2 separate regions of the Homo sapiens genome follow, and region 2 is linked to region 1. The links come from fine-mapping of genetic effects on gene expression. Tissue or cell type: whole blood. Region 1 holds a variant in brackets; the other region holds the start of a gene. Each region is shown on its reference strand, or each on the opposite one. Region 1 overlaps KLF2 (KLF transcription factor 2). Region 2 holds the start of RORC (RAR related orphan receptor C).

Region 1 (14,854 bases):
GCTGTAGTGCAGTGGCACGATCTCAGCTCATGTAACCTCCGCCTCCCGGGTTCAAGCAATTCTCCTGCCTCAGCCTCCCGAGCAGCTGGGATTACAGGTGCCCGCCACTAAGCCCAGCTAATTTTTTTGTATTTTTAGTAGAGATGGGCTTTCACTATGTTGGCCAGGCTGGTCTCGAACTCCTGACCTTGTGATTTGCCCGCTTCGGCCTCCCAAAGTGCTGGGATTCCAGGCTTCAGCCACCGCACCCGGCCCAGATGAGTATTATTAAAGCTATGGTTACTGTCCAGGGATTGCTTTGAGCTTTTAGAGCAGGGCCTGTATATTCTAGCTCCACTACCCAAGAACCGACTGAGGGGCAGTTCTGTCTGTATTAACTAAGCTACTACATTATTCCTCATTATAGGAATGGAATCTCATTGTAAAGGAAACCGGTGTGGTGGAGGGGAAGTCCCAGCCCTGCGTCTCCATTCCGTGCCATTGTACGAAGGTCATGGGAGAGAAGGGGGCTCGAGTGTCCTGGGTGCCTTCTATGGACCAAGCACTTTCTCGACCACCATTCAGATGGTCACATCCAAGACCAAGATGTTCACTTGAATTCAGAGGCTTGGCCAGGGGACTTTCCATTTGACAGGGACAGATGCCATTGCCTCTCTGTGGCACTGCCTGGCTGCATCACGAGCTTGTCTCTGCTTCAACAGTGGTTATTTTTATAGCTGACAATGAGACTTACTGGAAATGGTTTGGCACTCATGCGTAGAAAGCGCCTGTATTTAAATTTGAGGAGTCGGAGTGCCTGGGCCCTGGAAGATGGGTGGTTCTTCAGGCCCTTGGCCAAGACCTTTAAGCCATAGAGCAGATCCCTTCCAGCCCAGGAAAAATTCCAGGGATTCTCAGCCTTTCTGAGGACTGGTTCTCTCAGAGCATCTGTTTGAAGCCTTGGAACTGTCATCCTTTCTCTTGTCTGAGGGCCCTCCAGCCCTCACGGCTCACCCCAGTCCATTCATGTTACGCAGCAGAGCTCTTGTCAGCTTGTAAAACTGAAACTCTGCCCCCACTAAATACTCATTCCCCATTTCCTCCTCCCCCAGCCCCTCGCACCCACCATTCTACTTCCTGTCTCTATGAATCTGATGCATGGACTCATACAGTATTTCTCTTTTTGTGTCTGGCGTATTTCACTTAGGATAGTTCCTGTTGGAGCATGTATGTGTCAGAATCTTTCTCTTTTTCTTTTCTTTTCTTTTCTTTTTTTTTTGAATTGTAGTCTTGCACTGCTGCCCAGGCTGGAGTGTAATGGCGTGATCTCGGCTCACTGCAACCTCCGCCTCCTGGGTTCAAACAATTCTCCTGCCTCAGCCTCCCGAGTAGCTGGGATTACAGGCACGCACCGCCACGCCCAGCTAATTTTTGTATTTTTAGTATAGACTGGGTTTCACCATGTTGGCCAGGCTAGTTTCGAACTCCTGACCTCATGATCCGCCCGCCTCGGCCTCCCAAAGTGTTGGGATTACAAGCGTGAGCCACCGCGCCCGGCCCTATAATCTCTTTCTTTTTAAAAACTGAATACTATTCCATTGTCTGGATAGATGGATAGACCACATTTTGTTTATCCATTCATTCATCAGTGGATACTCGGTCCAAACTTTATGTTATATTGACAAAATAACTGTATTAAAAATAGTAATGTGGCTGCGCATGGTGGCTCATGCCTGTAATCCCAGCATTTTAAGAGGCCAAGGTGGGTGGATCACTTGAGGTCAGGCATTTGAGACCCTTCTGGCCAACACAGTGAAACCCGTCTCTACTAAAAATACAAAAATTAGCTGGGAGTGGTGGCGGGCGCCGGTAATTCCAGCTGCTGGGGAGGCCGAGGCAGGAGAATCACCTGAACCTGGGAGGCGGAGGTTGCAGTTAGCCGAGATTGCACCACTGCACTCCAGCGTGGGCGACAGAGCAAGACTCCGTCTGAAAAAAAAAGTAACGTTTTACAACAGAAGCAACTTATTCTCAATTGCTTTTTTTACACCTTAAAATTGAGCTGAAATTCACATAACATAAAACTAACCATGAAGTGTACACGGTAGTGGCATTTCGTGCATTCACAATGTTGTGCAACCATCACCTCTGTCTAATTCCAGAACATTTGCATCCCCCAAGAGGAGACCCTGTCCCCATCAGCAGCCACTCCCCATTCCCCTCCCCCAGCCCCTGGCAGCCACTCATCTGCTTCCTGTCTCTCTGGATTTGCCTGTTCTGGGCATTTTGTATCAGTGGAATCTCACACTATGTGGGCTTTCGCGTCTGGCTTCTCTCACTCAGAATGTTTTGGGGGCTCATCCACATTGTAGCATGGATCAGTGCTTCATTCCTTTTCATGGCTGAATAATATTCCATTGTATGTATGGATCACAGTTTTCTTATTCATTCTCTAATGGACACTTGGGTTGTTTCTACTTTTTGGCTGTTATGAATAGTGCTTTGATGAACATCCCAATTGTTTTTTGAGACAGTCTCACTCTGTCGCCCAGCAGGTTGGAGTGCAGTGGAGCAATATTAGCTCACTGCAGCCTCTGCCTCCCGGGTTCAAGTGATCCCCCTGCCTCAGCCTCCCGAGTAGCTGGGATTACAGGTGCACTCCACCATGCCTGGCTAATTTTTGTTGGCCAGGCTGGTCTGGAAGTCCTGGGCTCAAGTGATCTGCCCGCCTCGGCTTCCCAGAGTGCTGGGATTACAGGCATAAGCCACTCACTGCTCTGGGCCCCCAGTTTCTTTAAGCAAGCAAACAATAATAAAAGTTAATTGCCAAAACTTTTCCTCCAGGCAACAACCTTTCAGGGACCTCTCCCACTTAAAAAAGCACCAAAGGAGATGCACATTTACATTTAAGAAAGGCCCAGTTCAAGGTCAGGTCGTGGGCAGACACCCTCCCTCCGCCCGTGCTGAAGTTAGCTCCTGGTGGGGCAGTTGCTGGTGACGTCAGGATTCTGTAAAAACATGGAATTTCTCCACCCCCAACCTGCCTCCCAGAGACCAGCGGAATTAAGTAGAATGAATGGGCTTGTTTCCTTGGATTTTTTTTCTCTCTCTCTCTCATTTATTTATTTAGAGACAGGGTCTCTCTCTGTTGCCTAGGCTGAAGTGTAGTGGCATGATCTTAACTCACTGCAACGTCCACCTCCTGGGTTCAAACAATTCTCAGCCTCCCCAGCAGCTGGGACTACAGGCATGCACCACCACACCGGGCTAATTTTTTTTTTCTTTTTTTTTTAAATTAGAGACAGGGTTTCGCCATGTTGGCCAGGCTGGTTTCAAAATCCTGACCTCAGGTGATCTGCCCGCCTTGGCCTCCCAAAGTGCTGGGATTACAGGCATGAGCCACCGCACCCAGCCTAGAAATTATGTTTAGATTAATTTTTTAGTGATTATTATTCAGCCAGGCACAGTGGCTCATGCTTGTAATCTCAGCACTTTGGAAGGCCGAGGCGGGTGGATCACCTGAGGTCAGGAGTTCAATAAATTATTATTACTATTATTATTTTAAGGACAGGGTCTTGCTCTGTTGCCCAGGCTGGAGTGCAACGGTGCAATCATAGCTCATTGCTGTCTCGACCTCCTGGCCTCTAGGGATCCTTCTGCCTCAGCCTCCTAAGTAGCTGGGACCACGGGTGCACATCACCATGCCCAGCCCTGTCTCCCTCTCTCACTAATGGGCACCATTCCTTCACTGAGCACCTACTATGTGTCAGGCATAGCCCAGATTCCATCCATTTGAGATAGAGCCCGGCCAAGATAGCTGCTAAGAGCCCAGCTCTACAGAGGAGGAAAGAGACTGAGAGCCGCCTTCCCGTGCCTGAGGTTGACAGTGGTGACATAAGGAACTGAGCTTAGATTTGTCCAGGGCCCCTGGCCAGTGCCTCCCGAGTCACTGAGAGCTCAGATCCAAGCATCAGGGAATAGCAGCCCCGCCAGCAATTCTTGTACAGATGCAGGGAGGGAGGTTGGTGGGAACGGCCTCCAACTTCTGAGATGAGAAACCCTTCCTTCGACAAATCTCTGTATGACTCAAAACGAGCTCCCGGCAAGGTGGCCCGAGTCACCACCAGGGCACATTGAGGAAATGAGATGTCAGGATGTGTTTGCGGTTTGGGGTTCAACGGAAACACACCAGGAATGTGGAGAATTCTGCCCCAAGAGCCAGGATCGGTGCCTCTGAGTTACATTAAAGCCAAGAGGAGTGGGATGGGGCTGGCCAGACTTCTGATTCCTGAGTTTTTTCCCTGGAGCTGGAACATCTCATAGCTCCGAGGCTGCAGACGAGGGCTTGGCTGTGAAGTGTGTCTCTCGATCTTGGGACAGTCCCCAGAAAGGCCAACCTGGGGTCAAGGTTGAAAGTGGAGGGCAATTCAGGAGGCAGCCTGCGGAGTTACAGCAGCCTGCTGAGTGGCGCCTGGCATTCGGTGGGCGAGGCGCTATTTCCTGAATGACTGTGTCCATTTAGAGCCACGTGTCTCGGCGAGTGGCCCATGGACGGATGCATGGCCGAGCCAGAGTGCCTGCTCGTGTGCCAGCTCCCGGACCCTGCCAGAGGGCCCCCAGTTGGGATTCTACCCACTCGAGAGGATGCGGGTGGAGGGAGGCTGAGCACCCAGCAGGGTGGCAGGAAACAGCACTCTCGGTTTACTTTTCTCACCAGCCCTGGTGGGAGGGAGCTGTGGCTCAGAGAGGGCCAGGCGTGCGCCCAGGGCCATGGCCAGGGGCAAGGGGCAGAGGTAGGGGCAGCCAGGGCTGAGGGACTCTGAATGCTGTCTACGCTGCATACTACGTGCTCTACCCAGCATCTCCAGGCAGCCAGGGCCAGCGGATCCAAGTCCCCGTCTACACTACACGCTGCACACTCTACCCAGCATCATCTTGGCCTTGAGGTCAGAAATTCTGTCATCCCAGGAATCCTTGGATTTTGTGTGTTGCTCTCTGTGACTATGACAGGGGAGTAAAACCACTGTCCCCTTCACGGTCCTGACCCCTTGTCAACCAGGTCCCCCGAGTCATTCAGCACCCCTCTCTGCTGCTGCCCAGTCTAGTGGGAAGGAGGAGCCAGCCACAGATCTGGCGCTCCCACCCTGTGAGGTCCAAGCTGGCACGGGGCAGGCTGGGGTGCTTCTATGGGAATCAGGGCAGGCTTCCCAGTGGAGGTGATGCCGGAGCCAGGCCTTGGGGGGCGGACTGGCATCTGCCCCACGGACACACAGGAAGGGCTTTTTGCCATGAGGAACAGCCTGTGCAAAGATGTGGGATTGGGGAAGGGTCACAGGAGTTGGAGGACCTGGAGATGTGGATGGGAGCAGGGGATGCTGTTGTGGGAGGGGTCCTGACTAAAGCTGGGGACACGTGGCAGCCCCCCAGAAGCGGACCTCCAGTGGAGTCCCCACTGGCAGCCTTGAAGCTGTGGGGAGCAGCCACTCTTGGTGTTCCCCACAGTGATCTTGGGGGAATCATCCACTCTAGAAGCTACGAGCCCACAGGAGCCCTCAGAACTCACTAGGGCAACATCCAGAAGAGCCCATGCACATCTCATATCTGCAGAGAGAGCCCCAGGTGCACTGAGTCCCTGCACAAAGCCGGACTGGTCCCCACTCAGGAGCTTAGGCCCCTAAAGGACCTTCCCACTGCTAGAATGTTTTTTTGTCTTTTTTTTTTTTGAGGTGGAGTGTTGCTTTTTTGCCCAGGCTGGAGTGCAATGATGCGATCTCAGCTCACTGCAACCTCCGCCTCCCGGGTTCAAGCGATTCTCCTACCTCAGCCTCCTGAGTAGCTGGGATTATAGGTGCCTGCCACCATGCCCAGCTAGTTTGTTTTGTGTGTGTGTGTGTGTGTGTGTGTGTGTGTGTGTGTGTGTGTGTTGTCTTTTTTTTTTTTGTATTTTTAGTAGAGATGGGGTTTCACCATGTTGGCCAGGCTGGTCTCGAACTCCAGACCTCAGGTGATTCACCTGCCTCAGCCTCCCAAAGTGCTGGGATTACAGGTGTAAGCCACTACACATGGCCTTTTTCTTTTTTTCTTTTCTTTTCGTTTTTTTTGAGACAGGGCCTCACTCTGTTGCCCAGGCTGGAGTGCAGTGATGCGATCGCGGCTCACTGCAGCCTCTACCTCCCTGTTTCAAGTGATCCTCCCACCTCAGCCTCCCGAGTATCTAGGATTACAGGTGCACGCCACCAGGCCCGGCGATTTTTTGTATTTTTTCTGTGGATGGGGTCTCACCATGTGGCGCAGGCTGGTCTCAAATGCTGGGATTTTCTGATGAATCTTAGAGTAGGTCCTCCTTGTCTTTACAAGTGCGTTCTTGAATTTCTACATATTTCTTAAGTTTGCCAAATTCCTCTCTGTTTCTTATTTCTCACTTCATTCCATTGTGGTCAGAGGACATACTTTATAGAATTGCGATCCTTTTCAATGCACTGGATTTATTCTTTGGCCTCTCCCAGGGAATGTTCCTTGCACCCTCAAGAAGAAAGTGTGTCCTGCTGTTGTGTGGAGTGTCCTATAGCTGCTTGTTAGGTCTCATGGATTTATAAACTCCCCATGTTTAAAGAAAAAGGAGGGGGGATGGCGGGGAGAGAAAAAACAAAATGGCTTGCAATGACAAACCATTGACAAAATGTCAATTTTGTGGCAATTGACAAAATGTCAATGCAATGTTCTGTTTACATCGTTCTAGATGATATTATTTATTTACTTATTTTGAGACAGGGACTCACTCTGTCACCCAGGCTGGAGTGCAGTGGCGTGATCGTGGCTCATTGCAACCTCCATCTCCTGGGTTCAAGTGATTCTCATACCTCAGCCACCCGAGTAGCTGGGACTATACCTGCACACCACCGCGCCCGGCTTAATTTTTTTTTTTTGTATTTTTAGTAGAGACAGGGTTTCACCATGTTGGCCAGGCTGGTCTCGAACTCCTGGCCTCAAGTGATCTGCTCACCTTGGTCTCCCAAAGTGCTAGAATTACAGGCATGAGCTACCTTGCTTTTTTTATTTAATTAAATTAAATTAATTTTTATAACATTTATAATTTTATAATAAATTATAAAAATAATTATTTATTTATTAGAGGCAGGGTCTTGCTCTATCACCCATATCAGAGTGCAGTGGCACAATCATAGCTCACTGCAGCCTCAAACTCCTGGGCCCAAGTGATCTTCCCACCTCAGCCTCCTGAGTAGTTGGGACTATAGATGCATGCTACCATGCCTGCTACCACGCTCTTTTTTTAAGAGATGGGGTCTTGCTATGTTCCCCAGGCTGGTCTCAAACTCCCAGCCTCAAGTGGTCCTCCCACCTCAGCCTCCCAAAGTGCTGGGATTACAGGTATGAGCCAGCACACCTGGCTGTTCTAGGTTAAAACGGGGTCAAATCCTGGCAAGCCATGTCCCTGGTAGGAACCCCACCTGAGGGACCAGCTCCTCCTGTGGGATTTGCGTTTGTGGCTCAGGAAGACCCCAAGACCCATGTAGGTCGGTTGGCGTCTGTCTGCCGGAGGATTTGGATACCCGGGCCTCAGTTTCCCCACCCTGCAGAGTGAGGGCTTTTCAGTTTAGTCGCCGGCCTAAGAGTCTCTGGGTCTGGTGTGCAGGAGTCTGTGTCCCCTCCGGAGGAGGCTGTCTTGAGATGGCCGGGGCCTAGGTGGGGAGGGGAGCTGGCTGCGCAGAGCTGGCTGCGCAGAGCAGGCTGTGGGCTGAGCAGGCGGCGGGTGTGCCGGGTGTGAGCGGCACCTCCACCTCAGGCCCGTCCATCTCCCTGACAGCCTCTGCCTCTCTGCACAACCCAAGCTGCTGCAAAACCCCGATTTCCGGGCGGCCCCCAAGGCCAGGGCACCGGCCGTGCTCCCACTGCTCTGCGCTGTTACCCCCATTTCAAAGAAGAGGAAATCGAGGCCCAGAATGTTGCAGGCTGAGGCGACAGATGCCGGCTGGTGTGAATCTGAGCTCTCAGGGAGGCTCGCAGACGATGCTCAGCCTGGGTCAATGGCTCTTAGGCGAGCTGCTAAGGAAAGAAAAACTCTTTTGAGCGTTATCAGCAGCCACGAATAAAGTTTAAAAAAGGATACCCAGGCCAGGCGCGTTGGCTGACGCCTGTAATCTCAGCACTTTGGGAGGCCGAGGCAGGAGGATCGCTTGAGGTCAGGAGTTCGAGACCAGCCTGGCCAACATGGTGAAACGTCGTCTCTACTAAAAATACAAAAATTAGCTGGGTGAGGTGGTGCACGCCTGTAATCCCAGTTACTTGGGAGGCTGAGGCAGGAGAATCACTTGAACCCGGGAGGCAGAGGGTGCAGTGAGCTGAGACTGCACCACTGCACTGCAGGCTGGGCGAGAGAGTGAGACTCTGTCTCAAAAAATACTAACAGTAAAAAGTAAAAAAGGGTATCCAGCCATTCCACTGTTAGGGACACAGCCCCAAAAAACTGATAGCAGGGGCTGGAATGGGTATTTGCACACTCATGTTCATAGCAGCCAAGGGGTGGAAATGACCAAGTGTTCATCAAGGAATGAATGGACATACAAAATGTGGTCCTTCCACACAATGGAATATTACTGAGTCATAAAAAGGAAGGAAATTCTGACACACACTACCACGTGGATGAATCTTGAAGACATTATGCTGAGTGAAATAAACTACAGGAAAGGACAGATACTGTATGATTCCACTCCTAGGAGGTCCTCAGAGTGCTCAAATTTGTAGAGACAGAAGGAAGAAGGGTGGGGGCCAGTGGCTGGGGAGGGAGAATGGGAAGTGAGTGTTTAATGGGATCAAAGTTTCAGTTTGGGAAGAAGGGAAAAGCTCTGGAGATGGGTGGTGGTGAAGGTGGCACAATGCTGTGAATGCTGCTGAACTGAACACTTAAAAATAACCAATTTTGTGCTGGGTGTGGTGGCTCACGCCTGTATTCCTAGCACTTTGGGAGGCCAAGGGGGGCGGATCACCTGAGGTCAGGAGTTTGAGACCATTGGCCAACATGGTGAAACCCCGTCTCTACTGAAAATATAAAAATTAGCCGGCTGTGCTGGCGTGCGCCTGTAATCCCAGCTACTCGGGAGGCTGAGGCAGGAGAATCACTTGAGGTGGGAGGTTGCAGTGAACCGAGATCGTGCCACTGCACTCCAGCCTGGGTGACAGAGCAAGACTCTGTCACAAAAAAAAAAAAAGTGAATTTTAGCCAGGCACAATGTCTCACTCTTGTAATCCCAGCATTTTGGGAGGCCAAGGTGGATGGTTCATTTGAGCCCAGGAGTTTGCGACCAGCCTGGGTAACACAGTGAGACTCAGGCTCTACAAAAAATAGAAAAATTAGCCAGGCGTAGTAGCACACTCCTATAGTCCCAGCTGCTCTGGAGGCTGAGGCGGGAGGATCACGTGAGCCTGAGGAGGTCGAGGCTGCAGTGAGCTGTGATCGCACCACTGCACTCCAGCCTGGGCAACAGAGTGAGACCCTGTCTCAAACAAAACAAAACAAAAACAGTCAATTTTATGTTATGTATATTTAATCACAATAAAGAGAAAGAATGAAAGAAAGAAAATATGGGATGAGAGAGAAAAGAACACGGTGATGGGGCAGATCAAATCACGCTGGAGAAAGAGCTCAGGCTACGAGCAGAGGGTTGGTGAGGCCCCTGTCTCCAGCCTCCTGGGCTCAGTATCCCTTCTAGAACTATAGAGATGACTTCCCTAACTGGCATCAGCTTGGGCCTGTTCTCTGCACTCAGGGGAGCCCCCAGTAAGAACCAGCCCGAGAGGCTGATGCAGGAGGATTGCTTGAACCCAGGGGTTCGAGGCTGCAGTTAGCTGTGATCGCACCACTGCACTCCAGCCTGGGCAACAGAGCGAGACCTTATCCCAAAAAACAAACACAAAAACCACTGGGTCATATGGATATACCACACTTTTATTGATTCATGAGTTGATGGGTATTTGGGCTGTTTCCACCGTCTGGCGCATGTAAATGGTGCTGCCTCGAACACGTGTGTGCAAGTATCTGTTTGTGTCCCGGTTTTTATTTCTCTTGGGACTATACCTAGGAATGGAATCACTGGGACCTATGGCAATTCCATGTTTAGCATTTTTTTTTTTTTTTTGAAACAGAGTCTTGCTCTGTTGCCCAGGCCGGAGTGCAGTGGTGCAATCTCGGCTCACTGTAACCTCTGCCTCCTGGGTTCAGGTGATTCTCCTGCCTTAGCCTCCCGAGTACCTGGGATTACAGGTGTGCACCACCACGCCCGGCTAATTTCTGTATTTTTTTTTTTTTTTTAGTAGAGATGGGGTTTCACCATGTTGGCCAGGCTGATCTTGAACTTCTGACCTCCAGTAATCCACCTGCCTTGGCCTCCCAAAGTGCTGGGATTACATGCGTGAGCCATGGTGTCTGGCCCCCAGGCTCGTCTTAACTTATTATTATTTTTTTTTTGAGATGGAGTCTTCCTCTGTCGCCCAGGCTAGTGTGCAATGGTGTGATCTCGGCTCACTGCAACCTCCGCCTCCCGGGTTCATGCAATTCTCCTGCCTCAGCCTCCCAAGTAGCTGGGATCACAGGTGCCCACCACTACTCCAAGCTAATTTTTGTATTTTTAGTAGAGACGAGGTTTCACCATGTTGGCCAGGCTGGTCTCGAACTCCTGACCTCAAATGATCCACCTGCCTTGACCTCCCAAAGTGCTGGGATTACAGGCGTGAGCCACTGTGCCCGGCCTCCTCCTAACTTCTTATAGGGCACCTCAGGGAACCCTATTCACCCAGCCTCTTCCCGACCCCTTGTCCCTCCCTGTCTGGGATATTCCTGGCAAATGGGCTTCTCAGTTCCTTTTAGACAAAAGCCTAGAAGGAACTCAGCAGGGCTTCCAGGAACCCCTAGAACCTGTGTGTGGAGGGAAACAGGGCAAACCTGATGCATTGGTGCATTCAGATGTTTCTAGGCACAGGAGGAGTTGCGGTGGCCAGGCCAGGCAGACCTGGGTTGAAGCCTCAGCTCTGCCACCTGCACCAGGTCCCCCAGCTAACCTTCCCCTCTCTGAACCCCACTTTCCACCTCTAGAAAATGGGGGTGCTTAGGCAACCCTCAGGCTTGTGGGGAGGTTGAAAGAGATAATTTGTTGAAGGTGCCCAGAATGAAAGCACCCAAGCTCGAGTCACAGGGTCCACCGTTAGCACAAAGTTAGGTCATGCGACAAACATTTTGGCACTGACTCTG[G/A]GCAAGGCCCAGAGGCTACGTCACTTTTTTTTTTTTTTTTTTTGAGACAGAGTCTCGCTCTGTCTCTCAGGCTGGAGTGCAGTGGTGTGATCTCAGCTCACTGAAACCTCTGCCTCCCGGGTTCAAGCAATTCTCGTCCCTCAGCTTCCCGAGTAGCTGGGATTATAGGCGCCTGCCACCATACCCAGCTAATTTTTGTGTTTTTAGTAGAGACGGGGTCTCACCATGTTGGCCAGGCTGGTCTCGAACTCCTGACCTCAGGTGATCCACCTGCCTCGGCCTCCCAAAGTGCTGGGATTACAGGTGTGAACCATTGCGCCCGGCCAGAGTCACTCCTGAGATTCTGAGTCATATCTGCTTGCCATACAGAGCATCTGCTGAATGAACAGGTGAATGAATGAATGAATGAGCGAAGAGGGTTGTGGGGAGAGGGAGAGAGAGGGAGGAAGGGGCCTTAAAATTCAGGCACACCAGCTTTATCAGAGGACACTCACTGTGCTGGCCACACCCCAGGGGTGGGCTCTGAGCTTTAGTGTCTCATTTCATTTTCACAGCAGCAAACTCATTTTCCACCCAAGGAAACTGAGGCACAGGCAGGCAAAGTCGCACGGCTGATCTGAGGGTTTCTTTCTTTTTTTTTTTGAGATGGACTCTCCCTATGTCACCCAGGCGCCATCTCAGCTCAGTGCAACCTCCGCCTCCCAGGTTCCAGTGATTCTCCTGACTCAGCCTCCCAAGTAGCTGAGATGACAGAGATTATAGGCGCCTGCCACCACACCCAGCTAATTTTTTTTTTTTTTAAGTAGAGACAGGGTTTCACCATATTGGCCAGGCTGGCCTCGAACTCCTGAGCTCAAGTGATCCACCCGCCTTGCCCTCCCAAAGTGCTGGAATTACAGGTGTGAGCCCCCGGGTCTGGCCAGGGGACGGGTGTTAATTGGCATTGAGTCGGTGAAGGCCAGAGATGCTGTTGAACACTGCAGTGCACAGGGTGGCCCCGCACTGGAGAATGATTCAGCTCCAAATGTCTTTTGTTTTTTCTCTCTTCTCTCTCTCTTCCCCCGCCCCCCACCCACCCAGAAACAGGGTCTCTCTATGTTGCCCAGGCTGGTCTCAAACTCCTTGGCTCAAGAGATCCCCACACCTCGGCCTCCCAAAGTGCTGGGATTACAGGCATGAGCCACCGCTGTGCCCAGCTCCAAGGCTGATGCTCGCTGGTCTGGCACAGCTGACACAGCTCAGGCCGGGGCAATCGGAGCCACCCAGCCCTGGCACCTGACAAATCAGCTTGAGCCTATGGTCCTGGGACTCCACCTGGGGCTGCCGGGCGTGGGTGCTGACTCAACCGTGTTGACAGGGCTGGGTGCTGAGTCAGGGGTGAGCCTATAGACATCTTGCCCTCTGACAACGCCCCCTTCCTCCTCCCACTTCACACCACATCATTCTGCAGCCTGCCTGGGTGCTGGGGCCCCCAGAACTACAGGAAGTGCCTAGCAGAAAAATAGCTCCTACATCTCTCCCCAGCACCATGCCAATAAGCCCCTCAAAACTGTCACCTCTCCCCCACCCCCTGCCATAGCTGGGCTTGGTGGTCTGCATCTTTAATCCCAGCATTTTGAGAGGCTGAGGCGGGAGGATTGCTTGAGCCCAGGAGGGGCAATATAGTGAGATCCCCTCTGTACAAAAAAATGTAAAAATTAGCTGGGCATGGTGATGCATGCCTGTAATCCCAGCTACTCGGGAGGCTGAGGCAGGAGGATTGCTTGAACCCAGGAGGTCAAGATTGTAGTGATTGTGCCACTGCACTCCAGCCTGGGTGACAGATGAGACCCTATCTCAAACCAAACAAAATAAAACCTTCACCCTTTTCAACCCTTTTACCCACAGTGCTTGTTTCCATAAATAACTCCTGCCATATCTAAAAGGAATATTATGCAGCCATGAAAATGACAATACAAATGTATAACTGGGGGAAAAAACAGCATCGACAAATGATTATAACTTTGCCTGGGGAAAAGAAAGAATATAGCGAAAATCACAGCCATGAAAAGTAATTCAGCCAGTGACCACAAATCTCCTGCTCTAAAAAGAGAGAGAGAGAGAGAGAGTTTGGGTGCGGTGGCTCACTCCTGTAATCCCAGCACTTTGGGAGGCTGAGGTGGGTGGATCACCTGAGGTCAGGAGTTCGAGACCAGCCTGGCCAACATGGCGAAACCCCATCTTTACTAAAAATCCAAAAATTAGTTGGGCTTGGTGGCGCGCGCCTGTAATACCAGCTACTAGGAGGTGCTGAGGTAGGAGAATTACTTGAACCCAGGAGGCAGAAGTTGCAGTGAGCTGAGATTGTGCCACTGTACTCTAGCCTGGGCAACAGAGCGAGACTGTCTCCAAAAAAAAAGAAAGAAAGAAAGAAAGAAAGAAAGAAAGAAAGAAAAACTTGCATTGGGATTGGGTTGTAGAATCCTAGGTGAAGATGGCCCCAGGGTGAGGTTTTCTTTGTACCTTTTTCTGGGTGGCATTTGCCACCAAAGCTTGCTTCGTGGCACAGAGTCACCTTCTTGCTGATAAGAGCAATGATCTTTTAGGAACCAGAGGCGATGTCTCAACCTCAGCACTGCTGACATTCAGAGCTGGGCTATTCTCTGTGGTGGGGGCTGTCTGTACACTGCAGAATGCTTAGCAACATCACCCACCTCTGTCCACCAGATGCCAGCAGCACCCCCGAGTTGACAACCAAAAATGTTCCCAGACTGGGTCACTCTCCACTGAGCATCACAGATGCAGAAGATCATGGAAATTGGCATTTGAGTGTCAGAAAGGGGCAGAAAAAAATGATGATGGGATATTTCTGGATTAGTCGGTATGACCTAGCGCTGCCTGAGTTGGTGTCTCTTACTGAAACGTACAACTATCACACTTTCTATTCTGTCTGTTCTCCAACAGAACATACACGCAAGAAACAGAAACAGCTTCAGCCCCGTGAACGATTTGCCTTTCACTGGACTCAGAAGCTTCCAGGAGAAACCTGGAAGACATTTTCAAATAAGCAAGAAAAATAGCTTGATCACTAAGTTTAAGCTGAACAGGGAAACCTGGAGACCCTTAATATTGTTTTAAACCACCCGCGAGTCCTTCTTCTGCCCCTGCACTGCAGAGGCCAGCTTTTAAAAAGGGGGATCATCTCCCCAGGTCGAGGGGCCAACATTCTGTCTTGGGACGGTTTTTGCAGAAGCTGCACGCAGAGGGTACAGGAGGCTCAAAAACATTCACACCCTTCATCAGCAGCGGAAGTGAGGCCAGGCTATTTACTCTCGGAAAATGAATCAGATTGTCAAATCGTATTTCTGCTTTTCGTGGATTACCAAACACCTCTCAGCTGTTTCCAGGGCTGCCGTAGTTGGGGAGGAGGAAGGATGCAGGGAGGGAGGAAATCCCAGCCTCTGTCGCAACGGGGTGAGAGTGTTTTAAAGCAGGCGCTGCTTACGAGCTATTTTCACTTTCTGGAAACTTGTGCAATGGTTGGTGGTCATGGTTACCCGGGGCCCCTGAGAATGGGGAAGGTGAGGGGTGGCAGGTGAAATCTGGGGGGAGAGATACCTCCTTGCCTGAGAC
Region 2 (16,920 bases), not on the chromosome of region 1:
CTGATGGCCGTCTCCCTCTTCTCTGTAGCCCTCCCCCACCCCTAAGCAGCCCAGCTTCAGCAGAGGAGGCCTGGGCACAGGAATGGATTGTTGCTAGAAACCTGGCTTCAGCTGGAGGAAGTCAGAAGACCGGGCTGATGGCCGCGCAGACAGAGCTGTGTTTATCCAGGAAAAGAGGTAGGACGTAGGCAGCGGAGGCCCCTGCCAGCTCCTCCCATAAGGACTGCGCTGGGGGAGCAAGCTGCAGAGAAAGCTGCTCCCCTCTGGCTCTGAAAGTTTCAGGGCCTGAGGCCAGAACCCAAAAGCGACCCACAGGTGAGGCCAGCACTCCGGGCGCGCGACGGAGAGGGTCGCTAGCTCGGATCCCAGGGCAGAGGGTCGGAACACGGTGCTCTTGGTGGCTCCGCGCAGGGGTGAGGCGAGCGCGTGGTGGCGGAGCCTTCCGGAGACCGCTCTGAGGGTGGCGGAGAATCAATGCTGCCTTTGTGCTCGGTGGTTTCCGAGGGAGAAAAGGAGTGGAGAGTAGGAGGGGCGACCCAACGGCCCGGCCCCGCCCTGCAGACGCGGGATGCGGTAGGGCTGGGAGGCGCGGGAGCTGGACGGTCAGGGCTACTGGGGGTGGGATTCTGTGTCCCCGGGAGGTGCGTCTCCTTGGACCAGCCCAGGGTGTCCTGAGGTCAGCAGCCAGGTGTGTCCCCTGGCTGCCAGGAGCAGAAGTGAGTCCTCTTCTGGCTTGGAGCGACTCGAGGAGGGGAAGGAGGAGCCAGAGGAGGCAGGTGGGGCTAGGACTGAGGGATGGCTCAGGCCAGAGAAGCTTGAGCCGGGGCAGCCTGGCAAAGGGAGGAAGTCCCAAGGGGCGCCAGACTGGATCCCAGAGGAAAACCCAAGTCTTCGAAATGGGCGGGGGAGGAGGGCGTGAGCCCGCCTAGGGCGCAGTGTCCCAGGGGGGTTGGGATCTGAGTCCTTTTGCTATAATGCGGTTATTATCCTATTTGTCCTAATAGTACCCTAGGGTTCTGGTGGATACTATATGGGCCCTCTAACTGTAAGGTGAATGGGGCATCTTTAGTACCAGTGGGAGAATCTGTGTACTTGGTGACGGAGGCCCGTATATGAAAATGTGACTGACTGGCCCTTTGCTCCCTCCATTTCTCCCCAGCCCCCCAGACTGCGCCGCCCTTTCTTTTTCTGCTCAAATAGGGGTCCGCGCTCCCAGTGGGTCCGGAGACCGGGGCGCGGTGGCTGACCGCCCGGTGTACGCCAGCATCACTCACCTCTGACTCCTCTGCGCTCCTCGCCCAGCCCCGCTCCGCCGAGCACTCCCATCTGAGACGGGATTTGGACCCTCTCGGCCCTGCGGAATTCGGAATTCCATTACCCCACCCACCGCATGTGGCTCTTGGAAAAAGCTGGCTATAAGGTGGGGGCCGCGGAGCCTGCGGCCCGTTGGGCGCCTTCCGGCCTGTTCTCCAAGCGTCGCGCCCCGGGCCCGCCCACAAGCGCCTGCCCCAACGTCCTCACCCCGGATCGCATCCCGCAGTTCTTCATCCCGCCTCGGCTCCCGGACCCGGGCGGCGCAGTGCCCGCGGCCCGGCGGCACGTGGCGGGGCGCGGCCTCCCCGCGACCTGCTCGCTGCCTCACCTGGCGGGCCGCGAAGGCTGGGCCTTCCTGCCCGAGAGCCCGCACACGCGCCGGCGGGAATCCCTGTTCCACGGGCCGCCACCTGCCCCGGCCGGGGGACTCCCCGCGGCGCAGTCCCGGCTGCACGTCTCCGCCCCGGACCTGCGCCTCTGCCGGGCCCCCGACAGCGACACGGCCTCGTCGCCGGACTCGTCGCCCTTCGGCTCCCCGCGGCCAGGCCTGGGCCGGCGCCGGGTGTCCAGGCCTCACTCTCTGTCCCCAGAAAAAGCGAGCTCGGCCGATACCAGCCCGCACTCGCCGCGCCGCGCCGGGCCGCCCACGCCGCCGCTCTTCCACCTGGACTTCCTGTGCTGCCAGCTGCGGCCCACGCGCGAGAGCGTGCTGCGCCTGGGGCCCCGCGGCGGGCAGCTGCGGCTCTCCACCGAATATCAGGCCGGGCCCGGGCGGCTGCGGCTGCGCCTAGTGAGCGCCGAGGGCCTGCCCCGGCCGCGGTCCCGCCCCGGGAGCGGCGGCGGCGGCTGCTGTGTGGTGCTGAGGCTGCGGCCCCGCGTCCGGCCGCGGGAGCAGCAGAGCCGCGTGGTCAAGTGCAGCGCCAACCCCATCTTCAACGAGGATTTCTTTTTCGACGGGCTCGGCCCCCCGGACCTGGCCGCCCGCAGCCTGAGAGCCAAGGTGCTAGACAGGGGCGCGGGACTTCGCAGGGATGTGCTGCTGGGGGAGTGCGAGACGCCCCTCATTGCGCTGCTGCCCCCGCTGGGTGGGGGACTAGGTCCCGGGTCATCCCTGGCGCCCACCCATCTCAGCCTGTAGCCTGAGCCCCTGGCTTCCTCAGGACGTCTCCACTGTGTCTGCAGTCCACATTCTTTCCACCCTGCCCGGCTTGTATTTATTTTTGCTAATAAAATGTCCCCTTGTCCTTAGCCAGATATTTCCCCTTACTGGCACCTTACACGCTCGGGCATAGAGCCTACCGATCTTCCCTCTATCCCGGCCATACGCGGGGGGAAGATGCTCATTCAGACGGTCTGAGTAGAGCAGACCTTAAGCAGTGGTTCTCAAGCTTGAAGGAGCATCAGAATAACCAGACATCAGAAATCCTGGAAGAGCTTTTTAAATATGCAGGGTCCTGGGCTCCATCCCTATGAGATGCTCCTTCAGTAGATCTGGGCCAAGTAGGTCCTAAGGTCCCCGGCCAACAAGGCCCCCGAACAATCAGGGAGCCCTGCAATCACTGAGTCACTCTGACAGAAACCAACACAAGCCACCTTCCACTTGAGGCTGCACAGAGGAAATTAACACTCCCTTCCTGTGCCCCTCTAAAACCCACATCTGTCCTGAAGACAGATGAAATTTCTGGCTCTTGAGAGTGAGTCAGGGGATGTCAGATGAACACAGAGTGCCCTTTAGTCTTCCTTCTTCCCTCTTGCCTCTTCCACACCTGTGCGTCCCTTGAGGGGTGGGGCAAGTCTGGAGCCAAGAACCAGAGAGGTGCTTGGGTACCAAATGAATGAGATATAATGTCCCAGGGATTGAAAGGGGGGAGGTGGGGTACTACCAAAGTGTGAGAACTGTTCTCAGGAATGCCAGAAGAGCCTCCTCCAGCCAGAAGGAGGTGGGGGTGGGGGGAGGTGGATAATTGTAGGTCACATTGTGTTTACCTCTACCTGAATGTCCCTGACGTCAGCAGTGACCTTCTTCTCTCTCCCTCCACCTTCCCAGGAGCCGGTTCCTCTGGACTCAGGCCAGGCTTGGAGGAGGGAGGGAGGAAGTGAGGTAGGCACTAGGCTAACCCAACTTCTTTCTCCCTCTCCCTTGGGCCCTTTCTCATTTTTCATGGTGCCAGCTGTGGCCTGCACCAGGGCTAAGCTTGCGGGATCTGACAAAACCTCAAAAGCCTCAGCACCTGGACACGTTAAATTCCAACACACACACACACACACACACACACACACACACACAGAGACACACACACAGAGACACACACACACACACACACACACACACACACACACACACGGCTTCATTCAGACAGCTCTCCAGTTCCTTCTCCCTTCCCTGATTGGGTCCGCACCACCCAGCCCTAGGCCAGAGAACTCTTGCTCCAGGTGTCCACCAGGTGGTGGCATTGACCAAACAATCCTAAGTGCTAACTACTACACATGGATTATAACCACATGAGGAACTGTTCCAACAATTAGTCAAGCCATTTATTCCTCCCAGCACCTTCTATTAGGGTGTAAATACTATTATTATCCAATGGGATCTTGGGCCTCGCATAGCTAGTAAAGGGAAGAACTAGGACTCACATAGCTAGTAAAGGGAAGAATTCAGGGAGTCTGGCTCCAGAGTGTGGACTCTTAATCACTTCAAGATAATACCCCCCACTGCCAGCTGCTGCCTCCCAATCAAGTCACTCTAAAAGGGGCCTCCTTCCCTAAGATGGTAGCTCTGCAAAGGTTTCGTACCCTGCCAGTTTAAAATCCCATGTTTGAATTCTGGGAAGTCTACCTATAGATTTAGGTCTACCCCTAGTACTGGATTTCTATTTCAGCCCCCAAATTCTCCCATAACAACCCTTGGTGAGAAACTGGATTTGATGCCCATTTGAAAGTATCTGGAAAGAAAGTTAGAGGCCGTAGAACCTTCATTCATGCATTCCTTCAACAAATACTTCGGGAAGGTCCATCAGGTGGCAGGCATTGGATACAGCAGTGATTAAACAGACATGGGGATCAGAAAAGTGATAAAATAAGCCATTAAAATGTAAAGAATGCTACTTGGTGATATGTTACAGAGAAAAATAAAGCAAGAAAGGGAATAGAAAAGAGGGGTCAGATAAAGAGAAGGGAAGATTATAGGGACAGAAAGAGGGAGGGAGGAGAGGAAACTTTTTTTTTTTAACCATAGTACTTTGGACCAGGTCCTGAACTTTATCTGTGTTATCTCAGTTGATCATCACAACCACTCAGTAGAGTAGATATTAGTATTCCTCTTTTTTGGGGTGGGGGGACGGAGTCTCACTCTGTTGCCCAGGCTGGAGTGCGGTGGTGCGATCTCGTCTCACTGCAATCTCCACCTCCCAGGTTCAAGTGATTCTCCTGCCTCAGCCTCCCGAGTAGCTGCCACTACAGGCGCGTGCCACCACACCCGCTGGTTTTTTGTATTTTTAGTAGAGACGGGGTTTCACCGTGTTAGCCAGGATGGTCTCGATCTCCTGATTTGGTCTCATGATCTCGGTCTCGGTCTCATGATCCACCCACCTCGGCCTCCCAAAGTGCTGGGATTACAGGCGTAAGCCACCGCGTCACAACCACTCAGGAGAGTAGGTATTATTATTCCCACTTTACAAAGAAAGAAATGGATCAGATAGATAGGTTAAGTAAGCTTGCCTGGGGAACAGCCCTGGCTGGAGGGAAAGGTTCTGACCTGACTCCACCCAGACACCCCCACTGCCACCCCAACTGCTTAGGGGAAGCTGTGAGGAAATCCAAGGCCACTCCTCCCAGGAGCAGTTCACTCAGCATTCACAGCCCTGAGGCTCTGTGATGGGGGCCCTAGCATTGCTGGAGGAACATCCTGGGTAGCTAAAGTACAGAAACATGGGAGTGAGGAGGTCCTAAGAAACCCTCCAGTGTGCAGATTGCTCTGGCCCCAAAGCACTTCTATAAACACTAGTCAGAGGCCAGGTGTGGTGGCTCATGACTGTAATCCTAACACTTTGATAAGTGGATAAATGTGGGAGGCTGAGGCGGGCAGATTACCTGAGCTCAGGAGTTTGAGACCAGCCTGGGCAACATGGTGAAACCCCATCTCTACAAAAAATGCAAAAATTAGTTGCATGTGGTGGCATGCACTTGTAGTCCCAACTACTTGGGGGGCTGAAGCAGGAGGACCTCTTGAACCCAGGAGGTCAAGCCTGCAGTAAGCTGAGATCACGCCACTGCACTCCAGCCTGGGTGACAAAGTGAGACCTTGTCTCAAAAACAAAACAAAACAAAAAAATCCACTAGTTAGGACAGGTATTATTGCCCCATTTTTACTGATGTGGTAGCTGAGGGCTGAGATTTCCCTCAGGGCCTACAGCTAGTAAATGGCAGACCACATTCTTATAAGTGATTCTGCCCCAGCATTTAAACCCTTCTTGCCACCTCCAAGCCTGTGTGACTATAAATGTTAATTGGTAGAGGAGAGGTACAAGCAGGGTCACTGTGGAAAGTTCAAGGCCAGGAGCTAGGGTCAAACTCCCACTGTTCCTCCACCCACAGTGGCCTTTGTGACAAGAAGGGGGAGGGGTGGGGACTGTGAGATCTGGAGGCTACCGAAGGTTACAGAGCCTGGGCTGTCCTTTTTCAACGGTTGAGGCACAACCCATCCCTGAGTCACTCCAGTGGGTTGAGGCGTCCCCAGGCATGGAACCCCCTAGAACCCAAAGAAAAGTGGTCCCTAATCACTGGATCAGGCATCCCAAGGAGAGGGCCCTCCAAGGATGGGGCTGGGGAAGTGTGTGCCACCGCAGACTACCCAGGCTCCACATATTTTCCACCTTGACCCCCAGGCCCTCCCTGAAAGGGCAGATTTGTGCTGAGCTTTAAGTGGTTTCTGTGGTTTAGGGTTGGGGAAGGAAGGAAAGAGATGCTGGGGACTGCTCCCCAGTTCCAAGCCACCACCACCACCTCCCATCCCTTCCAGAGTGTTTGCCCCCAGCATGGAGATTTCCCCAATAAGGGGACTGGGCACGTGGGGATGAAATGATTCTCTGATCCCTATCAGCCCCTTCCTTATATAAGATTGTATTTGAAGAGGAAATAACCACCGCCCTGCTTTGAAAGGACGATTCTTCCAGATAAGGGGCTGTGATTGCAGCAAGAGGGAGAAAGTTTAGACAAGAGGGGGAACTTCCCATAAGGATAACCAAGGGATCTTCTTGCCCTGGGGAGAAAAAAAACTCAAACTATCCATGCTTAGGGCAGGGGAGAGGTAGAGAATGCCTAGGAAGCATGTGACACTCCTAGGCCTAGAGGTCAGGATACTGTCTTCTAAATCTCCAGTCACTTCCTCCCCACCCTACATAGTAGCACAAAGTGGCACAACTGGGGAGTCAGCTGTGCCTGCAGTGTCTGGGGATGCTCTGTGTCCATCCGCAAGCATTCTACGTGACCTCCACTCTGTGCCTGCAATTGGTGGGTTGTAGAAGAGGTAGTCACGAAGGGCCCCTGGGAGACCCAGAGTCAAGAGGAAGAGAGGCCTAAAAAGGAGAAAAGATAGAGAGGGGACAGCTGGAGAAGAGCCACAGACAGGCAGGAGCCAGCAAAGAGAGACAGAGAGATGGGGGATAACTGAGGAGTTCTGGGGAGGAGGGGAGCAGAACGGCATCTCCCCTGCACTCCCACGCCCGGCATGTTGCTGGCTCCTCCTGTCAGCTGGAGGGTGCTGGGGGGGCGGGGGGGAAGGGAGCTGCAAAGCACTTTACCTCTCACTCCAAACCTGCCCAAGGTGCAGAGCCCCCAAACAGACCAACATCCTGTTCTGTGCAGAGATGCATACATGGATGCGTGGGCCCACATTTACCAAAAGAACACGGGGGATAATCAGAGCCTCAGAGGCATAGGCACATACCCTTAGACTCAGTGCAGAAGGTCCCCAAAACTTCCCCTCCTCTTTCTCACTACTCATCCACTGTCAATGACCCTAGGAGTTGAAAAGTCCTTCTCCACTTCTACCTTTATCTCTCAATCTGCAGCCATGGGGAGACTCTGGGAGCTACCTAAGAACAGAGGTGCTGATGGTAGCAGAGTGTGAAGCTCCAGGGTTGGGCAGGAGTGGAGGATGGCGAGACGAGACGGCAGAAGAGGGAAGGGACAGCTGCTTGCCCTCTCCATGCCAGGTGCCACGTGCACCAGGTGGGGGGGAGTGGGCGAGTCACGAGGCTGTGGCATGGCTGACTCCTGCTCTGCTGTTTACCAGCTGGGAACGAGAGCAGGAGGAGGTGCCAGGGAGCCTCTTGCTGCAGCCTGGCCCCTGGCCAGTTGCTTGTTGGGTAACCAGGAGAGTCAGGCCCAGCTAATCAAACTCTGGGCCCAGGCCATGCAGGAGAAAAGCAGCACCAGGATCCCCAGAAGCCTCGTCCTCTTGGCCCCCTTCAGAGCCTTCACTGCAGGCCTCAGTGTGGGCCACTAGGTCTGGGAGCCTCTCCTTCTCCCAATGAGTCCAGTGCAGCATCTCTCCTCTCCTCTTCCCCACCATGGCTTCTCTGCCTCCAGGCACTCCTCCAGGCCTGCCCCTTGCCCCAACAGATGAGGAGCACGTAGAAGCATCAGGGGGTCAGGGAGTCCTGGCAAGAGCAGCAAGGGTTAGGGGCAGGGGCCGAGCAGGCAGAGGCCTCAGGGAACTGAACAGTCACTGGGAGGAGTCTGACTGCATCCTAGAGAAGAGACACAGTCCCCCAAACCTGCCCTCTCCATCTCCCCTATGCCTGTCACCTGTCTTAGGTAGAAATCACAGGATTCTAAAGTCACAAAGACTTGGGTCCAAATCATAGCTCACCCATTTATTGTTCTTGTGTGAGTCCTTGGGCAAAATCATTAATATCTCTGAGAATCCCTCCACTCACTGATCAATCTGGAATAATAATGTTTCCCTGTGGTGGGTGCTGTGAATATTTACACAAAGTAAAAGCATGGATTTACATAAAGTGTCCTGCAAAGGGCCCAGCACACAGTAAGTGATTAATAAATGCTAGTTCCCTTCCTTTCTCCTGTCCTGTTTCTCCTCAAGGCTCCATGCACTGGTCCACTGGTCTCTCCTCATGTCCCCTCCTGGTGCCAGGACACTCTGCCAGCCACTCCTTTTCCCTGCCTGCTGGAGGGCCAGGTGCTCCCGCCTTCCACCCTCCGCCCTCCTCCCTCCCCTGGGCCCTGCTCCCTGCCCTCCTGGGCAGCCAGGGCAGCCAGGACGGCACCAAGGGAGCTGCCCCATGGACAGGGCCCCACAGAGACAGCACCGAGCCTCACGGGGTAAGAGGCCCATGGCCCTGCCTGCAGGTGGAAGAGACTGCTGGAGGTTCAGAGGAGGGCAGAAATGGCAAGAGACTGGGCAAGAAGTGAGGAGGGGAGGGAGGGACAAGAGTGCAGAGGAGAAAGCCCTGGGTTGGCAGGGAGTGAAACTGGAGGAGAAACAGGAGGAGGGGCTGGGGAGATGACAGAGGAGAAGAAATCGCAAAAGGAGAGAAACAGGAAAGAAAGGGAGAAGCGGGAGAAGGAAGAAACAGGTTGGAGGGTAGATGGGGAGGGAAGAGCCAAGTCAGGGGAGCCAGATCTAGACCCAGCGAGGGGTCAGAATGTGGACAGGCCCTCCCAGGTGTGGGCTTACCCCCCAGGAGGCACAGGGACACTGCTTCCTTGATCTGGCCAGGACCCCAGACAGCAGTGGCCGGGAGGCTGGCTGCTCCACCTTCTGTTCATTCACCAGTGGAGAAACCTGTCCTTTAAGGAGTGACAGACTTGGGGAGTGTGGCAGGGGGAACCACACCCTGTCAGCTGCCCATGACCACGTAGCCTGGTCCTTTCCTCGCCACTCACCCAGGGATGTGGGATTTCATCTCTGCAGAGAATGTGGGGCACTGGGCCATCAGCAGGGAAGGACAGAATGTCAGGCCGTCCTTGGCCCCACCCATGGTCCAAGTCAGGAACCCCCTCAGAGCAGGATCGCAGGGCCACAGGCTTGGTCAGCTGTGAGCATGGAGGAGGAAAGTTTGAGGGCCAGAGCCACCAAGCTCCAGGGCCACCTGGTGGAGGAAGAACTGGCTGCCTGGGTGAGCAAGGGGAGCACCCCCACCACAGGACTGCTCTGAGGTGCAAGGCTAGAGGCCAGGAGCCGGTGCCACGTCAGGGAGGAAGCTGGGTGGGGCCAGGCAGGAGCAAGGGGAGGTGGGCGGGGCTGGGTGGGGCCTTGCCACCTCGGGGCAGTCTTTTCTCCTCCCTCACCCCAGCAGAGCCCAGGCCATCAGGCCACTCGCCTCCACACAGCCTAGTGACCACGGCCTGCCAGTGGGGAGCATCTCCCGGGCAGAAGGGCACTGTGTGTGTGTGTGTGTGTGTGTGTGTGTGTGTGTGTGTGTATGTCAGGTGTCAAGACTGAACAGCAGAAGGAAAAAAATAACAGAATAGAGTCAGAGGTTAGGGAAGCTATAGGGGGTATAGGGCATGGTTGAAGGGCTTTCTGAGACAAAAGACTGGCCATGTGTTCTGTGATGAGCTGCTATGTGGATGTAGGAAATGGGCCAAGGTCTGGCAGGGGAATCCTCTTTCCAGGGGCTCCCTGGCTAGGTGTTTCATAGATGTTAACTGCATGAATGGGTGACACCCCCCCACCCACCAACCATGCTCCAGCTAAGGCCCTCCCCTCAACGGCTGCTCCCCCTGGAGGTCCGAGTATCCATGTGACCCCCATCGACCCACTCATGCTCCCTACTGCCCAATCTCCACCCAGACCCGGCCACGCAGCAGCAGCAGAGAAGGGAGGCCTTCCTCTTCAGGCTGGTAGGCCAGGGAAGCCTGGCCCGTGGAAGCCAGAGAGGGGTCTGTATTTGCAACTCTCCCCTCCTCTTCCTCCAAACATCCTCTCCCCCTACTCCCAACCCCCACATCTCTGAAGCCCTGGTGTTTTCAGGCATAGATAAGCAACCAAGAGATTTCAGTCCCACAGAGATTTAACTCTGGCTGTAGGATATTTCTTGTGCACCTCCAATGAAATTACAAAGTAAATAAGACCAACACAGTCCCTGCCTTCACAGGGCTTTACAATTTGGCAGGAAAGACCCATTTCATAGACAATGACACAATTACAGCAGTTAGGTGACAGTTGGTGACATGGTGAGTGCCAGGAAATAAAATGCAAGGAGCTAAATGTGTCAGCACAAGGGCAGGGGAAGGGGGTGTGTGTGGCTTCTCCAAGGAAGAAACATAATCAGAGACCTGAGGGAGAAAGAGAAGTTGGCTAGATTAAGGGGTACAGGAGGGACAGGCATTCTAGGCAAAGGAGCAGCTTGGGGGAGTCCCAGAGGCAGTGAGGAGCCTGACACTTCTGGGTACCTGGAAGAGGGCCAGTGTGGCCCAAGGGCAGAGGAGGAGAGAGGGGCACTGCAGGGGGTGGCCTGCCTGCCCTTCAGACGCCAGGCTCTGAGGGAAGGAGTGCGGCAGTGGGATCCTAGGAGTGGGGAAAGTGTCTCAGCCCCTCATGATCTTCAACCTTTGACGTCAACCCCCTCTCTTGTCTTTACAGAGCTGCTGGCTGCAAAGAAGACCCACACCTGTGAGTAGGGGGTCCGGGGCAAGAAAATGGCTGGGGCATAATGAGATGGAGAATAATTCAGCAAGTGATCTGTGGGGGGACTGAGGTTGGACAGAGGTGGAGGAGTCAGGAAGAGATGGCAGGCAACAGGAAAGCAAGGGGAGGTGCGAGGAAACCACAGATCAGGGCAGTGGGAGGAGATGAGGAAGAAGCCTGAAGCATGAAAGGAAACACTGTAAAGAAACCAGGAGAGAACAAAGGAAAAGGGAACCGCCTTGTGAAAAAAGGCGAGGAGAAATGCTGGACAGAGGCAGGGAGATGGGAGGGGGTGGGGCCGACTGCCAGGCCGGGGAAGGAAGGAGATAGAGGTAGGGGGGTGTGCGGAGGCGGGGTGGCCTCAGGAACTCAGGAACTCAGCGCTGCTGCCAAGGGAGACAGGGAGCCTGCACCAGGCTTTTTTTTTTTTTTTTTGAGACAGAGTCTCACACTGTCGCCTGGGCGGGAGTACGATGGCACAATCTCGGCTCACTGCAACCTCCACCTCCCAGGTTCAAGCGATTCTCCTGCCTCAGCCTCTCGAGTAGCTGGGACTACAGGCACCCACCACCACGCCTGGCTAATTTTTGTATTTTTAGTAGAGACGGGGTTTCACCATGTTGGTCAGGCTGGTCTCAGACTCTTGACCTTGTGATCCACCCCTCTCGGCCTCCCAAAGTGCTGAGATTACAGGCATGGGCCACTGTGCCCAGCCTGCACCAAGCTCTGTGGTCCTGAGCCAGGTTTGGTGTTCATCTCTGTGGTTAACACATCCTGAGGTGTGAACAAGCCTGGAGCCAGCCTGTGCAGGACTAGAGAGCAGGAGAGCTTTATCTCTGTAGGAAACAGAATGGACAGGGGCACTCTGTGTCCTGGGGCCCTGAAAGCCAGACTACAGCAGGTAAGAAGGGCACTAGAGCTCAGAGAGGACTTCCCAGTGGACGCTAGTGAATAAGAATCCTCTCTAGGGACCACTCAGCACATCAGCTCTCCTCTCCTAGTTTGTGGCAAAGGCTAGTCCCCCAGAGAATGCACACAGTCCCAAAGCTATGCCCATCAGGGCCATGCGTGCCCTTCTGTGAGCATGGGTCCCTGAATCGAGAGGATCCCTCCAGGGTAGGAGTGGCCACACCATTTCTCCATAGCCGTCCCTTGACTGCCTTGCCAGTTCCTCCTGAGAGCTCACTGCCATCTCGCCCAATGCCAAAATTGTCTAGAGCCTCCCTGTTCCAAGTAGAGACATCTCAGAGAGCAAAGCATTGCCCTTCTCCATGAGCTGGGCAGCCCAGGGCTGAGGGCCATCCAGGATGCTACCTCCTCCTGGGTGGGGGTTGCTTTGCTCAGCATAATCCTGATCAGTGTCTCGCCTGCCCCTAGCCACAGGGCCCCACGGAAATGCTGAGCAGGGCCCCGGGAGGAAAGCGGGTCAGGGAGTGACGCGGGTGAGCTGGGGGAGGGGGGTCACGGACCTTATGTGGGTGGGGGGAGTAGGGGGACTTTCGGAGCAGCAGGAACTGGGAGAGGTCAAACCCTATTCCTACCCTTAACCCCTGACCTCAGAAACCTCAGCCAGGACTATACCTCCTTATCCCTTTCCCATCCCACCAGTCCTCGTGTCCCCACCCCAAGAGTGTTGTCCTGAGGATCCAGGCTGACAGCCTCTCCCCCACTCCACGGCCCAGCTCCTGAAGCCCCAGGAAGGCCCAGGAAGGCAAGGAAAGGCCTGTGCCTGGATGAGAGGGTCTGGAGTCCCAGCAAGATCAGACACCTCTCAGGAGTTTGCCCCACAGAATCCAGGAGACATTAAGGCCTCCCCCAGGCCGAGAGACTCTGAAAATTGGCTCCTGAATTGAGACAACCCCAAGATGGGGGTCCAAGATGGGGAACCCGGGGGAACTCCCCAGACCAAGAGGGAGCCTGAATACTGAGGGGCCCTGAAGAGGGACTCTCAAAGCCAATGTACCCCACAAAGCACCTAAGAGGCTGAGAAGGTCTCTGGAATTGTTTGGCCCCTGAGAAGGACCCCCCTCCCCCAGGCCAAAAAACACTCCAGAGAGACTCACATACCGAGGGACCTCCCAGGCTGAGACACCCTCAAAAGCAGACTTGAACCAGAGAAACCCTCCCATCCTTCAAGTGGGATCCGAAGCCAGTCTGCCTGGGCTTGAATCCTGACTCTGCCACTTACTAGCTGTGTAACCTTGGGCAAGTTACTTAACCTCTCTGTGTCTCACTTTCCTCCTCGAAATGAGGATAATGGTAGCTACTTCATAAAGTTTTTTTATTTTTTCTTTTTGAGACAGAGTCTTACTCAGTTGCTCAGGCTGTAGTGCAGTGGCATTATCTCAGCTCACTGCAAACTCCGCCTCCCGGGTTCAAGCGATTCTCCTGCCTCAGCCCCCTGAGTAGCTGGGACTACAGGTGCTCGCCACCATGCCTGGCTAATTTTTGTATTTTTAGTAGAGATGGGGTTTCACCATGTTGGCCAGGCCGGTCTCGAACTCCTAACCTCAGGTGATCCACCCACCTTGGGCTCCCAAAGTGCTGGGATTACAGGCGTGAGCCACTGCCCCCGGCCCACATAAAGTATTTTGTGAGGATTAGATTATCCACATAAAACATCGAGAACCATTTCTGACACATAATAGTAAGCACTATTATTATGATTATGAGTATGATGATGGTGATGATGATCATTATCTACACTCCAATTTCAGCAGTTTGGCTCCTAAGGAAATTTCTGGTTTCCTTCTGTGGATTGTGGGTATTTGCCTGGTGATTATTACTGCTTCTATCATTTCCATGTATTCCCTAGCGCAAGATATATGTGGTGTCTGCAGGGAGGAGCGTGGGCATGGGAGTGGTGGGACAGCCCCCCAGGCTGCACCACACTGGGTATGGCTGTTGGCAGTCCACAGGGTGTCAGGTGGCACATGCCACCACCCCAGGCAGACATCCTGTGACTTACCTCTGAAAACATCCCTGTCCCTGAAGTCACCTGGCAAAGAGGGTCAGGCTTGGAAGGTCCTCGGGGGTAGGAGGAGTAGAAATTTGGCTTCAGGCTCGTGTGAGCTCCATTCTGGCTCCCCAGCCAGAACTACCCTGGCGGGTGGAAACAGCTTTTACCGCGTGTGGCTGTCGCATGTGGTTTTGGAATTTTCCAACGCCCCCTACGATTGGCTGCCCCTCCCCTCACACCCTGCCCCAGGCCCAGATTGGCCACGTGGGGCGCCTGTCATCCTACTCACTGCACCCCTTGGGGGTGGGGTGGGGGGTTGTCACTTGGCCACCTGTGTGGTGCAGAGCTTAAACCCCCCAGTCCAGAAGCACTGGGGGAGAGAGCTAGGTGCAGAGCTTCAGGCTGAGGCGCTGCTGAGAGGGCCTCGCCCCGCCTCTGCCGCCAGCTGCACCCCACTCCTGGACCACCCCCTGCTGAGAAGGACAGGGAGCCAAGGCCGGCAGAGCCAAGGCTCAGTCATGAGAAGTAAGTGAATGGGGCCACCTGGGGGCGGGGGAGCCTGGACCCTGTCGTCACCCCTCTGGAAAGGAGGATGTCTTGGGAACAGTGTGAGCAAATCTGAGCAAAGCAGGGTGCGTCCTGGTCAAGGTCAAGATCTGTTGGGAGATGGGTGGAGCAGCTGGGGAGTCCTGCTGGCCAGGCGGCTCCCTGACAGCAGCAATGGTAAGAGGACTGTTGAGGAATTCCTGAGTTCCAAAAAGAACCTCCAAAAGTATCTGAGGTATCCAGGCCCTTAATTTTACAAAAAGACTGAGAGCCAAGGAGGCCGCGTACTTGGCCCAATGTTACACAGCTGGTATCTGATGGGGGCTGGTAATTACTAGGGGCCCTGAACGCACTCTCCTGTTACAGTGTTTCCCTTGTTACGGTGTTTCCCTCTGTGCCTCCAGCCTGCTTGTGAGTAAAAGGAGGCCAGAGCAGTTGCTGTGCTCTGAAGCAACAGGACAGCGAGAGTCAACTGAGGTTGGCAGGCAGCAGGGCACAGAATCCCCGCGTCCAGGCCTCAAAGCCACCAGGCTTTCTGCCCAATCCAGGGACATGAGGACTATGTGGAATCCAGTCAGGGTGCACCCGGGCACATGCCTGCGTGTGTGTGCATGTGTGTGTGTGCGTGTGTGTGTGGGGTGTGTGTGTATGTGTGTGTGTGGTTCTCCAGGGTCAGTCACCCATTTGACCGGGGAAGCAAGGCAATGGAGATGGGATTGGAAAGACCTCGGCCTCACCCTTTTCCTGGCTTGGAGCCCTGGGCCAACAGTTGGTGGGCAGATGTCTGGGGTTCCTGTGCCTTCCAGCAGAGCAAGGGTGGGCAACCTCAGGAAGTCCCCTGTATTTGTTGTGAAGGGAAGCCAGGGAAGCCAGAGAAGCTCTCAGAGCACAAGGTGAAGGAGGAAAAGGGAAGCCCCATGCCCCTGTGGCTGAGGCCTGAAGCAGCCCCAGCTTCAACCTGGGGTCTTCCCACAAGCCACAGAAGGGAGGCCGTATTGAGTCCTGGAAAGACCCCTGGACTGACAGTGTAAGACCAGGCACTTGTGCCGCCTATCACTGGCTAGCCATATAGACTTAGACAAGCCAAGTCACTGGGCCCTGGTCTACCATCCGCAAAACAAGGGAGCTGAATTTTAAGATAGAACAACAAAACCAACTATGGAGAGTCTCCCATTCCAAAGGCCCAGGGCCAAGAGAGAGCCCAGTGCCCTAAGGCAGGCATCCCCAAGGGTGATGATGGAGACTCAGCTCTCCCAGAGGTTAGAAGGAAGGGAAACCAAGGAAAGAAAAGAATTCCACTTCTGTGACAGGGACTGAGGCCACAGTGCAGGCATATGAGCTGGGGTGGATAAGGAGGGCTGGAGAGAAGAGCCAACAGCTTCTACACAGAGGAAAGGGCCCCTTGGAGCTTCCGTTTCCCTTCTAGCTTCTCTCTATTAGCAGCAAACGCTGGCAGACTGGTCTTCCCAGAGATGGCCCCTAATGAGCAAATCAACCCTGGGATGAAATGACTAGGTGTGCTTCTAGCCCAGCAGCGGGGCAGGAGTCCCCAGGAGGGGCTGAGGGAGACACTTGGCCAGCTCTCCATTATTCCCACCCCCACCACACACACACAGCCCCACCCAGGCGGGGAAGTAGGAGAGAGGGCCTCCTCCAACGAGGGGGTCAGTGCCACTGGTCCTTCTCACTTGGACATTTACAGGTATCTCATAGCCCCAAGTTATCTGACCCCAATGAGTGCCAACCACCACCAGCCCCTCCAACCGCCGATGGCAAAAGTCAAAGCACATGGGGCTTGGGACTGTGACACACCCAGAGACCAAGGGCCCGACAAAAGGAGCAGAAACAAATCAAGAAATAAGGAGAGATGCAGAGGCCCAACTCAGAGGGCGAGTTTCTGGAACACCTAGGGAGAGAGTAATGTCCAGCTGGAGGTGTGGTTGGAGAAACACCAATAGAGCCAAACGCATGGAGGTGCAGCCGGGCGTGGTGGCTCATGCCTATAATCCCACTTCAGGAGGCTGAGGCTTGAGGCCAGGAGTTTGAGACCAGCCTGGGCAACAAAGTGAGCCGCTGTCCCTACAAAAAAAGTTTTTTTTAATTCGCTGGGCATGGTGGCGTGTACCTGTAGTCCCAGCTACTCAGGAGACTGAGGCAGGAGGATCGTTTGAGCCCAGGAGTTCAAGGCTGCAGTGAGCTATGATCAATGTCACAGCACCCTAGCTTAGGTGACAGAGCGAGACCCTGTCTCTTAAACAAACAAACAAACATGAAGGTGTGAAGCCCAGAAACAGAGCTGGAATGCAGAAGATCACAAGGCACATAGACACAGGGAGAGGCGGAGAGAAAAGATAACTGGCAGTAAAGGGAAGACAGGGAGACACAGGGTCTAGGCAAGCGGTAAGAGGGAAGTAGGGTGGCTCTGACAAGGATGGCACCAGCACCCTGC

What was found. PIP is the estimated chance that this variant, and not a neighbour inherited with it, causes the effect.
Region 2: RORC starts here. The variant in region 1 is the best candidate, but not a certain one, in a credible set for the expression of RORC in whole blood (TOPMed, PIP 0.60).

What each region holds. Positions count from the first base shown.
Region 1 is chr19:16,328,360-16,343,213 of GRCh38, reverse strand. It overlaps KLF2 (KLF transcription factor 2), which reads right to left. Exons shown (of 3, transcript NM_016270.4): 3 at 14,529-14,854. Among named protein-coding and RNA genes, the nearest start is that of KLF2, 11 kb to the right of the region's middle. RefSeq lists enhancers at 404-633, 12,164-12,273, 14,117-14,266 and a silencer at 12,624-12,673. The variant G/A (reference allele first, on the strand shown) is at 11,243.
Region 2 is chr1:151,823,460-151,840,379 of GRCh38, reverse strand. It overlaps RORC (RAR related orphan receptor C), which reads left to right and starts at 8,578. Exons shown (of 11, transcript NM_005060.4): 1 at 8,578-8,655; 2 at 10,922-10,951. The coding sequence starts at 8,616. It overlaps C2CD4D (C2 calcium dependent domain containing 4D), which reads left to right and starts at 560. Exons shown (of 2, transcript NM_001394591.1): 1 at 560-716; 2 at 1,160-2,562. The coding sequence starts at 1,391. The coding sequence ends at 2,452. C2CD4D-AS1 (C2CD4D and THEM5 antisense RNA 1) reads right to left here and starts at 2,103. Exons shown (of 4, transcript NR_152846.1): 1 at 1,643-2,103. RefSeq lists enhancers at 154-223, 764-813, 9,270-9,957, 10,644-11,329, 14,591-15,526 and silencers at 1,617-1,706, 1,777-1,896, 1,907-2,006.